2 separate regions of the Homo sapiens genome follow, and region 2 is linked to region 1. The links come from fine-mapping of genetic effects on gene expression. Tissue or cell type: whole blood. Region 1 holds a variant in brackets; the other region holds the start of a gene. All regions are shown on one strand. Distances are between the middles of the regions.

Region 1 (5,338 bases):
TCTACTGGTCAGAAGAAAGCAGTAGAAAGAGCTGGTAGACTGGCTGCTGCAGATACTCTCCAGCAAGTAAAGTGGACACCTCGAGTGAGATGAGCCTTGTGAAGGGACTCACCTAAGCAGCAACATGGAGGGCCAGGTGCACTGAGGGGGTTCTGTGGCCCATATGTCTGCTAGTTGTGATTTCTTGAGTCTGGACCCCTTAATCGGAATGGTCTCATTGTGGTCAGGGTCAGATGGTAACTAAAGTTTTGTGGGGTTTTATTGAAGACAGGGTCTCGCTCTGTCACCCAGGCTGGAGTGTAGCAGTGCGATCTCGGCTCACTGCAACCTCTGCCTCCCACGTTCAAGCGATTCTCCTGCCTCAGCCTCCCAAGTAGCTGGGATTACAGGAGCGTGCCACCACGCCTGGCTAGTTTTTTGTATTTTTAGTCGAGATGGGCTTTCACTATGTTGGCCAGGCTGGTTTTGCACTCCTGACCTCAGGTGATCTGCCCACCTTGGCTTCCCAAAATATTAGGATTACAGGCGTAAGCCCTGCCACCTCCCCCTAGTCCCCCATCCCCCGGGTCTTAGCATTTCTAAGTAGCTCCCATGTGCTACTTAGTTACATACCTGTCATTTAGGCTGAGTGCTTTGAAGGTAGGAGGCTTACATATCTGTTTCCTGCTGCTTGACACAGCCAGTGCTTAGTAAATCACTAAACAAAAAGATTATGAATGAAAAGGACATGGGCAACAGTTTCAGCAGAAACTCAAACCCTTTCTGTCTGAAAGAAATCCTTTGCTGGGGATGGCTTAAGTAATGGGGAAAAATGGGTTCTGGAGCCAGATTTAAGCAGTTATGTAATCCCAGATGAGTGACTTGACCCCGTTGGGCCTCATTTTCACCTGAAAAACAAGGCTAATAAAACTCACAAAGGTATCGTGTGTGAAAAGCTCACCACTGAGCTGGGCATGTAGCAGGTACACAGTCTTGGCTGTCAATACTCAAAAATGGCTTCAGGCTGGGCACGGTGGCTCACACCTGTAATCCCAACACTATGGGAGCCAAGGCAGGTGGATCACTTGAGCCCAGGAGTTCCGGACCAGCCTGGGTAACACAGAGCCCCATCTCTAAAAATATTTTAAAAATTAGCTGGGTGTGGTAGTGTACACCTGGACCAGCTACTTGGGAGGCTGAGGCAGGGGACTGGAATGTAGGGTTTGGTGCTGCAGGAAGCTGTGGTCGTGCCACCGCAGTCCAGCTTGGGTAATAAGGTGAGACCCTGTCTCTTAAACCAAAAACATAACAGGCCAGATAGCTTGAGCCCCAGAGTTTGAGACTAGCCTGGGCAACAAGGTGAAACTCCATCTTTACAAAAAATACAAAAATTAGCCAGGTTTGGTGGCACATGCCTGTATCCCAGCTACTTGGGAGGCTGAGGCGGAAGGATCCCTTGAGTCTGGGAGGTTGTGGCTGCTGAGAGCCGGGATTGCGCCACTGTACTCCAGCCTGGGCGACAGAATGAGATCCTGTCTCAAAAAACATGAAACATACCAAAAAAAAAAAAAAAAGTTTCATAAGCACAGCTGCCACAATGTTCCTGGACTTCCCATGTTATTCCGTTCAATAAAGTCACGTCATTAATTTAGCTGTGATCCTATTTTCATTGTATCATCTAATCAATTCACAAATTGCACGTCCTTATTTTTGGCTCAGAAGAAAAAACAAAGGTTGCAGTAAATCCAGACGTGACAGCCAAGTTGGCTTGCTCTTTCTCCTCCTTCCACATTTTGTTGCTGGGCACACTGAAGACAGGGCCACTCAAAAAGAGACCCTCGCTGACAAATCGGGACCAATTTTGATTCCCTGGAAACCATCATTTATTTTTGGTAAATGCCAGTGAGGAATATACACGTCATTCCTGCAGAAAAGTCTATAGCATTTAAGTCTTGAAAACAGGTGACAATTGAAAAACATTATAATATTTTCAGGTCTTTTAATAATTCAATGCTCTGTGTCCTTCAGGCTGTGAGACCCTAAGGTATTGGGGTCTGGTAATGTCCCAGCTATAGCAAAGGGCCTGTTGGGTGACATAGGACAAATATACAGCAAAATTCAGAAACTGCAAGTGCTTCCTCACTTGAACGGATCTGGCCCCTTTGTGGTAGGGGCTTGACTGTTCCTAGAATGAATGACTTAAAATAAGGTGGTTAAAAATTCTGCAGTGAGTCTCGCCATGGTGAACAAACATGATTCAGAAATGCCTCCTTCTATAAAATGAAGGAGCTGGGTTGGAGTCAGTATTACCAGCCAGACCATACCCTGATGGGTAAAGGAAATTCTCTACCACAGAGCTCAGCAGTGAGGTGGCTGAGAGGAAGGCAGGCCTGCAGATGAAAGCGTGGGAGTGGAGCATGTGGGGCGGGCACTGTCCGGCTGGGAAAACCCAGCCTTCAAGAGGCCATTGTCAATCAGGCTGGGCACGGTGGCTCATGCCTGTCATCCTAGCACTTTGGGAGGCCAAGGTGGGCGGATCATTTGAGGCCAGGAGTTCGAGACCAGCCTGGCCAACATGGTGAAACCCTGTCTCTACTAAAAACACAAAAAATTAGCCAGCCGTGGTGGTGCATGCCTGTAATCCCAGCTACTCGGGAGGCTGAGGCACGAGAATCACCTGAACCCGGGGGATGGAGGTTGTAGTGAGCTGAGACTGCGCCACTGCACTCCAGCCTGAGCAACAAAGCAAGACTCCATCTTGGCAGGGGG[CG/C]GGGGGATGTGGACCTTCAAGTCTCAGAAATATGTGTTTGTCTTTTGATCTGCTGATTTGGTGTAACGTGATTGCCTCATTCATTCCAGTGTACGTACTTGCTGTAAATTTATATACAGAATTAAATAGCCCATTTATTAATTTATAAACCATAATAAAACCAGACAGTCATTTCCCGTCACCAGCAGATCTTGCATTGGAAAAGGAAAATAATATACAAATTTCAGCAACTTCAGAGATTTCAGGAAGCCTGAATGGAGGTCGAATTCATTTTGGAGTTCAATAATATGTTCAAAGAATCAGGTACTATATATAATCATATAGACAACTCCCGTAATATCTCCGCAGTGCAAAATTATCCCTGTTTCTTGTCATTCACCAGTGAGAAAAATCCAACTGCAGACTTGACTGCCTTCGGTGAAGGCACACGGCAAGTTCTTCTGACAAATAACACCCTTTGGGATTGACTCTTCACGTTTTACACAGCAATTGTCTCAGCTTGGGACCAAAGTATTTACAAAGCAAGCGAACAAGAGACGAAGCAAGAGGGACACTTCTGAGGCCGGTGGTGCGGAAACTCACCGCCAAACAGGGTGGGGGGCCAGTCACCTCTTCAGGAGTGTCCCATGTGTCAGCTGACATAACATCTTAAATACAGAATTCCAATTGAAAGAAAAACAAACAACAACAAAAGAAACACCAGTCAAGCATAAGTGATGTTACTTCCTCTCTGAACAGGGAAACATCTCGCTCGCTGGGAGATAAAAGGTAAATCTCTCATTTGCTGCTCTCTTCCCCTAAGTGCCAGCAAGAAGCTGGGTGTGGTGATGAAGAAAGAAGGCAGCCATCACCTAAGACCCCACAAGCCAAGCCGTGGTCCCCTCCGTGAGGGCACGGTCCTTTCATGAAGCCGTAAAAGAGACCACAGCTCGGACCTGAGCACTCAGGGTTACCTACTGGGGTCTTGTCATATTCCTTATGTTGATTTCTGCCAAGACCCAAACTGATTCCTTTTTTTTTTTTTTTTTTTTGAGACAGAGTCTCACTCTGTCACCAAGGCTGGAGTGCAGTGGTGTGATCTCAGCTCGCTGAAACCTCCACCTCCTGGGCTCAAGTGATTCTCCTGCCTCAGCCTCCCAAGTAGCTGGGATTACAGGCAGGTGCCACCATGCCTGGCTAATTTTTGTTTTAGTAGAGATGGGGTTTCACCATGTTGGCCAGGGTGGTCTCAAACTCCAGTGATCCACCCACCTCAGCCTCCCAAAGTGCTGAGATTACAGGCATGAGCCACCACGCCTGGCCCCAAACTGACTCTTGACCAAAGAATCTGATTTGGCAAACCAAATCTTAGTGCAGTGTTCGCTCCTCGTCCCCTTACCCAGAACATGATTCAGATCCTAACATAAACACAAAAACAGGTCAGGGAACCAAAACACTGTGGTCTTGTCTATTATACAAAATATTGAGATAATGTTCACGATTCATTCTGTTTTCAGCAATTGTGACAATTTTGAAGCTTCTCTCGAAGCTTCGAAACACTTCATTTCCTACTAAATACCAAAACGTGTCAGACAGGCATCACCAGTGGGAACTTGGTTTTGTTTTGTTTTTTTTTTTGAGATGGAGTCTCGCTCTGTTACCCAGGCTGGAGTGCACAATCTCGGCTCACCACAACTTCTGCCTCCCAGGTTCAAGCAATTCGCCTGCCTCAGCAGCCTGAGGAGCTGGGACTACAGGCACGCGACACCATGCCCGGCTAATTTCTGTATTTTTAGTAGAGATGGGGTTTCACTATGTTGGCCAGGCTGGTCTCGAACTCCTGACCTCGTGATCCGCCCATCTTGGCCTCCCAAAGTGCTGGGATTACAGGTGTGAGCCACTGTGCCTGGCCGGGGAACTTTGTTTTTAAACGTTTACAAACAAAAAGATTTTCGATGCATAGGCCAGTCCTAATGCATCCCATAATGGGGACCAAGGCAAAAACACACACACACAACTACAAAATATTCCCTAGAAAAATGCAAGATCCTCCGAAAATCAAGATCTCTCTACCAAACAACATACCAAGTCATCACAGAAGAGGTGAAGATGCCTCTCAAAAGACATGTGCCACAGAAATAGAGCTTGAAATACTGAACACGATTTCTCGAAGATCCTTCTCACCACCCCAAGAGAAGCGCCCTGCTCTGGTGAGGGAAGAGGAGGCAAAGGAGAAGAGAGAAGTTTCCCTTCCATCTGGATCTGGGTGGATGCCAACCCTGACGTGCAGGGCAGAGCACCAGGCTGCAGGAACTGGATGCTAATTGCAATCGCTTTTTGCTTTGGAACATTTGCCAGGAACTTGTGAACTGCTAAGGGGATGACCAGGAAACTGGATCCATCTCTGTGGCTGGGGATGTTTTGAATGATTCTCGCGGGCTCCCTGTCTGCTTGGTGACCCTGTTGGTCCTATGCGTATCTGCGCCAGGGAATTAAACTAGCCAGTCTGACGTTCTCAAGCACCGCCCTGGACACCCCCACTGCCAGTTCATGGTCTACAGCCACAGTGACCCCAGCTTTTCACACAGGTCCTGAATGTTATCTGGAATG
Region 2 (5,338 bases), 22 kb after region 1:
GTACAACGGGGAAACCTGATACACACGATGATATCCGGTGATGCAGCTACACACCTCAGGGACAACTCTGACTTCTCAGGAGCCAAGTCACAGCCTGACATCACCCTGGGGGAGCAGGGCTACAGAGCACACACAGGTCTTGCTGAGACAAAGACAGGCAGGAATAAAAAAAAATCAGCCATAGGTGGCCCAATTTCTATAAGCCGATCCAGGGCACTACCTCTCTGAGTTACATAAAATACAACATGCCAGAAACCAACCACTTGGAAAAGAGGCACGGTGTCCAGCATCAGCATGAAATGGATTCCGGCTGAGACAACAAGCGCCCAACTTCCACTTAAGAATACGGGATAAAGCTGTCTCCGGCTAAAGCCATGGCTATTCTTGCCCCAAGCCAGGAAATACCCTGGCTTGGCATCTTGAACAGAATTTGGACTGTGCCCAAAGCATCCTCCTTATGCAGCCCTGAGTCCTGTGTGCCACTTTCGCTTCCGTTCCCAGACCATCACAACTTCTGGCTGTTTTAATTTCTAAGACTTTGCTGGATTTTGCCAAGATCGAACTCCTTGGATCGCGTCTGGCTTCTGATCCCAGAGGTCCCCTGACAGAAATCTCTTGTCAAGAAGTGAAAACCTAGCCAAGTGCAGTGGCTGACGCCTGTAATACCAGCACTTTGGGAGGCTGAGGCGGACGGATCACTTGAGGTCAGGAGTTTGAGACCAGCCTGGCAACATGGTGAAACCCTGTCTCTATTAAAAATACAAAAAAATTAGCCAGGTGTGGTAGTGCACGTCTGTAGTCCCAACTACTTGAGAGGCTGAGGCAGGAGAACTGCTTGAACCTGGGAGGCGGAGGTTGCAGTGAGCTGAGATTGTGTCACTGGACTTCAGGCTGGGCAAGAGTAAAACTCCGTCTCAAAAAAAAAAAAAAAAAAGTGAACACCTAACCGACAGCGTTCTGATCCATCCATCCCTAGTCCCACTGGAAAGGCCACACATGGGGTGTATGGCCAAGATGTGACCAACCCATCACCTACCAGCAAACCCAGGTAGGGAATCAAAACGGGGAGGAAAATTGGATCTGAAAGGGACAACAGTGTTCCTAAGACCACACAGCAGAGATCACAGAGGGACACATACTCCACACACCACTGCTCACAGGGTGATTCTAGAACTTGAGTAGTAAAAGGCCACTGGAGACCTCTACACTGACTTCCCTATTTGACGGGAAGCCAGGCAGCCTGCAGACCAGGATCCTGACCACGTCACCAGTTGGCAACAGGGAGGAACCCCCTGGAGCTCCCATCTGCCCAGAGTCCCTGCCCGGGGTTACCTTGGTGCTCTGCTTCTCCTTCATAATGATCCGGGACAGGAGGACCACCCAGATGGGCATGGTGGCCTTGACTGCAAAGAGAGGGATGGGCACTCAGGGGGCTGCCTGAATTTCAGGGCCCAACCTGTTCCACCTCCACGGCGGGATGGGAGGGCCTGGCAGCCCCTCACACCTCTTCGCCCCTTCTCTTTCGGTAGGGCTTCCTCCTGCCACGGCTGTTGTGGTCTGTCCTGCTTACCTCTCAGCTCTCTTCTCAGCTCCTCTTCTCCCTGAGAACCCCGTGCGTGTCCCTCCCCTACCAAACCCTTGGCAGCCCCTCTGCTGACTTCTCAGTCCGGCGGGACGCGCCCCGGGCGGCGCACTCCTATCCATGCGCCCAAACCCGAAGCGGCGGGCCCGGCCGCCGCCCCCGAGGCCGGGCGCGGAACCTACCGGTGTGTGCATAGGACACGGGCACCTTCCAGATGCTGACGTGCGCTGACACGGACGCGAAGTACTTGCCGAAGGCGAGCGGTAGCACGTAGCGCGGGTAGAAGCGCGGCGGCAGCAGCGGGCCGGACGACGGATGCGGACTGGGTCCGGGGCCCGAGACGGGCGGCGCGGGGGGCACGCGCCAGGCGCGCAGCAGCGGCGGGAGCCCAGCGCACAGAGCCAGGATGTGGCACAGCGACACGGTCACCGGGAACGGGAAGGCGCTCAGGATCACCTTGTTGACCACGTTGCCGCCCGCGCTCAGCGCGTACCACAGCAGGCACAGCGCCGCCACCCGCGCGCCCTCGCGCGCCCCACCACTGCTGCTCGCTGCGCCCGGGCCCCCCGCGCCGTGGCCCGCGCCCACCGCGGCCGCCGCCATCCTGCCCGAGCGGCCGCCCCTTCCAGCCCGTCCGACGGCCCGACGCCGGGCGGGGGCGGGGCTGGGCGGGGGGGCAGGCGCCCCGGTCTACGCCGTTTCCCATTGGTCGCTGCCTCCTCGCGTCATCCCTCCGCGCCGGCCGACGCGCCAGCCACCACGTCTCGAGTGCAGGCCCAGTCCACTGTAGATGCGCTTCCGGCGGAGCCGAGGCCGGAAGCGGAAGAAGGGGACACAGACCTGCGTCCAAGCTGTGCCACCTGAGACGTGGGCGGTCCCAGTGACCGGGAGCCGGAGCTCGAACGGGACGGGCGAACAGAAGCGCGGAGGGCTTCGCAGCGTCGGCGTCTGTGCGTGGGCCAAACATCAGGGCCTCGACCAGGGATACAAGGGCAACCGCTAACTAGATTCCTGATTCCTGATGGCTGGCGGCGGCTGACACCAAAGGTAAAAGGCCTTTTAGGGAAAGAAACCATTTGTGAAAAGCTCTTGGGCTAAACTCGCTCTGCAAACTGGGGGCGCACGCTCGTGGCCAAACTCTGGCAGTGGGACTATCCCGGAGCACCCGATCCCTGGAATCATGTTCTGGAAACCACCGCGACGTGCGCAGTTCTCGGGCGTGGCCCTGGTATCATCCCACTGAATCCTAGGAACGCGGTGCGGTAGGTATCACTGTCCGCATTTCACAGACCGAAGTCCAGAATGGGGAAGCGACTTGTCTTAGGCTTCCTGGCCACACTGGGGACCGTGGTCATGGTAGCGTCCTTGGACACCTGTCTCCAAGGCTCTGCAGAAGGGGGAGGTGCCGGGCCCTGACGGCTGATGTCCAAGGACCAGCCGGGATGGACCAGCCCCAGGAGGCCCCAGTGGAGGAAAACAGGACGAGGTTTTCAGTAAGATGATCTTATACTAATTCAAGGGCTATAATTTGTTCTCCACATCGTGTGCCTCCAACTTTTTCGGGGAAAGGGTGTTAAAATTCCGTTACAGTGTTTTTACTTGTCAAATTAGAAGCAGCAACCGGCTGGGTGCAGTGAGTCAAGCTTGGAATCCCAGCACTTTGGGAGGCCAAGGTGGGCGGATTGCTTGAGCTCAGGAGTTGGAGATCGTGGCATCGATAACATGGCAGAACCTCATCTTTGCAAAAAATACAAAAATTAGCCAGGCGTGGTGGCGCACGCCTGTGGTACCCACTACTAGGGAGACTGAGGTGGGTGGATCGGCTTGAGCCCAGGTCAAGGTTCCAGTGAGCTATGATGGCGCCACTGCACTGCAGCCTGGGTGACAGAGCGAGACCCAGTCTCAAAGAAAAGTAGAAAGCAGCAACCCAACTTGGCTCCCCAAATGTTGGAAGGTATCTTAGCTTATCCTTGCATTCTCAAAGGCCCTAGGCCCTTCTGGATACATGGACACAGGCATGGTAGTCCCTGCAGGCAGGGGTAGTGGGGAGCTGCAACCTATCCCAAAACTCTAGAGATGCTGATAGGAGGCCAAGCTCTGCACCCTAATATCCTCCAGCTGTACCCTCTGTGGATCAGAGTAAAGTCACATCCTTGGGACACCATGTCTCAGCAGAGCTGTTAAACATAGGCACAGTGAAATTAGGAAAGTATAACTATAGGCACCCTACAGCACAGCTGAGTGTCAGATACTTCCACTGACACACTGACATGCTTTGTGTTTTAGTTCTCACAACTCTGGGGTATTCTCACCCCCCAAATGGGGACATGTGCACAGGAGTGAAGAGATGAGCTCAGAGCCACACAGCTGGTGGGTGGTAGGCCTGGGTTCAACCTCATCCTGCCTTCAAAGCCACTTTGCCCATGGCCTTTTGTTGGGGAGGGGAGTGTGTTCTGCACCAAGCTTTTGCCAGGAATCCCTGCTAGCTCTCAAACTGGCTCTGGACTGACTGTAGTCTTACAGGCTGGAAGGAACCTTTGGTTTGCCCTGTGAGACTGCATGTCTTAAGGTGTAGCTGTTTCTTCATTTGTGAAATTAAGCAGATATGGGTAAGATGACCTATTCCAAAGTGAAAAACTGGAAAACCAAAGTCTTAGCCTACAGTTTCAGGGACGAGGGGGAACTAAAAGATGAGCACTTTATAGTCAAGGGAGAAAAATTTTTTTGGAGTCAGCACCAACCAGCTAATAAGGCAGCTGGGGGCCAGGGCCATGGGGTGGCCTTTCAGACACACACACACAGCTCTGAGCCTCTGGGCCATACCTTGTAAGAACTAGGTATTTTGTTGAGGTGGGGGTAGTCACTGAGACCTGTGCTATGGGAGCCTCCTACAGAGGGCTGCTCTCTAGGCCAGGTAAAGTCTGGGTGAGACAAGAAAACATTCCTTAATGTGGCCCTGAATGAATAAAATGTGGAGGTCCTCCCAAATGCAGCAGCAGGCTAACAGGTGGACTGCAAGGCTGTGCCCTGCCCTGTCTCCCTGCATTGCAGCTGTTGGGGTCTGGGTGTTCCTGGCTAATAATCCACAATCCAGGAAAGGGCTGATTTGGTTGTGAAGGTCCAAATGAGAAAAGATTCTCAGACTGGTTTGTGCAAATGGTTTTTTTTTTTTTTTTATTTCCACATTTATATCACAAGGTGTCCACTTACTGGACCAAATAGCAAAGTTGCTCCCTTCTGCGTCCTGAGAACACAGAAGTCTAGGTACTGTACATTCACTAAGGCTCCTTGTTTTTGCAAATCGCGTTTATGACAAATAACCATAAGGCAAACGAATCTAAAGGAATGGTTATGAGTGTTTCCAGCGTACAGACAGGTCTTCCCCCTCGCCCCACAGTACAGCATAAAACCAGTAGCACCCACAATAACTTTTGTGTTGTTTTGGGGGGACTCTAGAAAGGTGAAGTTTTCTAGATGTGTACAGGAAGGGAAAAAAGAAAAGGGAGGAAGAAAGGAAAGGTTTTTTTGTCTGGTGGTCTGATGGAAGAGGAATTGTTTAAAATAAACATGAGAAAACTTAAATTTTTGCAGCATTTCTTTAAAAACTGGGTTATAACTGAAACCAGATATAAACAGGTGGCTGCCCATGGAGTGTGGGTCACACTGGCTGGCCAGCTGGCCCGCCTGCCCAATGCCAGTGGCTCACCACAGCTGAGAAGCTTCTGGCACATGACAGACAACACTGGCCTGACAGTG

Evidence for each region. PIP is the estimated chance that this variant, and not a neighbour inherited with it, causes the effect.
Region 2: SLC35E1 starts here. The variant in region 1 is fine-mapped to the expression of SLC35E1 in whole blood (TOPMed, PIP above 0.99).

Annotation. Positions count from the first base shown.
Region 1 is chr19:16,547,993-16,553,330 of GRCh38, forward strand. SLC35E1 (solute carrier family 35 member E1) reads right to left here. Exons shown (of 6, transcript NM_024881.5): 6 at 1,845-5,338. Among named protein-coding and RNA genes, the nearest start is that of CHERP, 8.2 kb to the left of the region's middle. RefSeq lists an enhancer at 46-145. The variant CG/C (reference allele first, on the strand shown) is at 2,749.
Region 2 is chr19:16,570,180-16,575,517 of GRCh38, forward strand. It overlaps SLC35E1 (solute carrier family 35 member E1), which reads right to left and starts at 2,236. Exons shown (of 6, transcript NM_024881.5): 1 at 1,765-2,236; 2 at 1,333-1,403. The coding sequence starts at 2,185. MED26 (mediator complex subunit 26) reads right to left here. Exons shown (of 3, transcript NM_004831.5): 3 at 4,740-5,338. LOC105372295 (a long non-coding RNA gene) reads left to right here and starts at 2,371. Exons shown (of 3, transcript XR_936360.3): 1 at 2,371-2,629. RefSeq lists silencers at 1,603-1,732, 1,893-2,002, 2,133-2,352 and enhancers at 2,271-3,145, 2,453-2,542.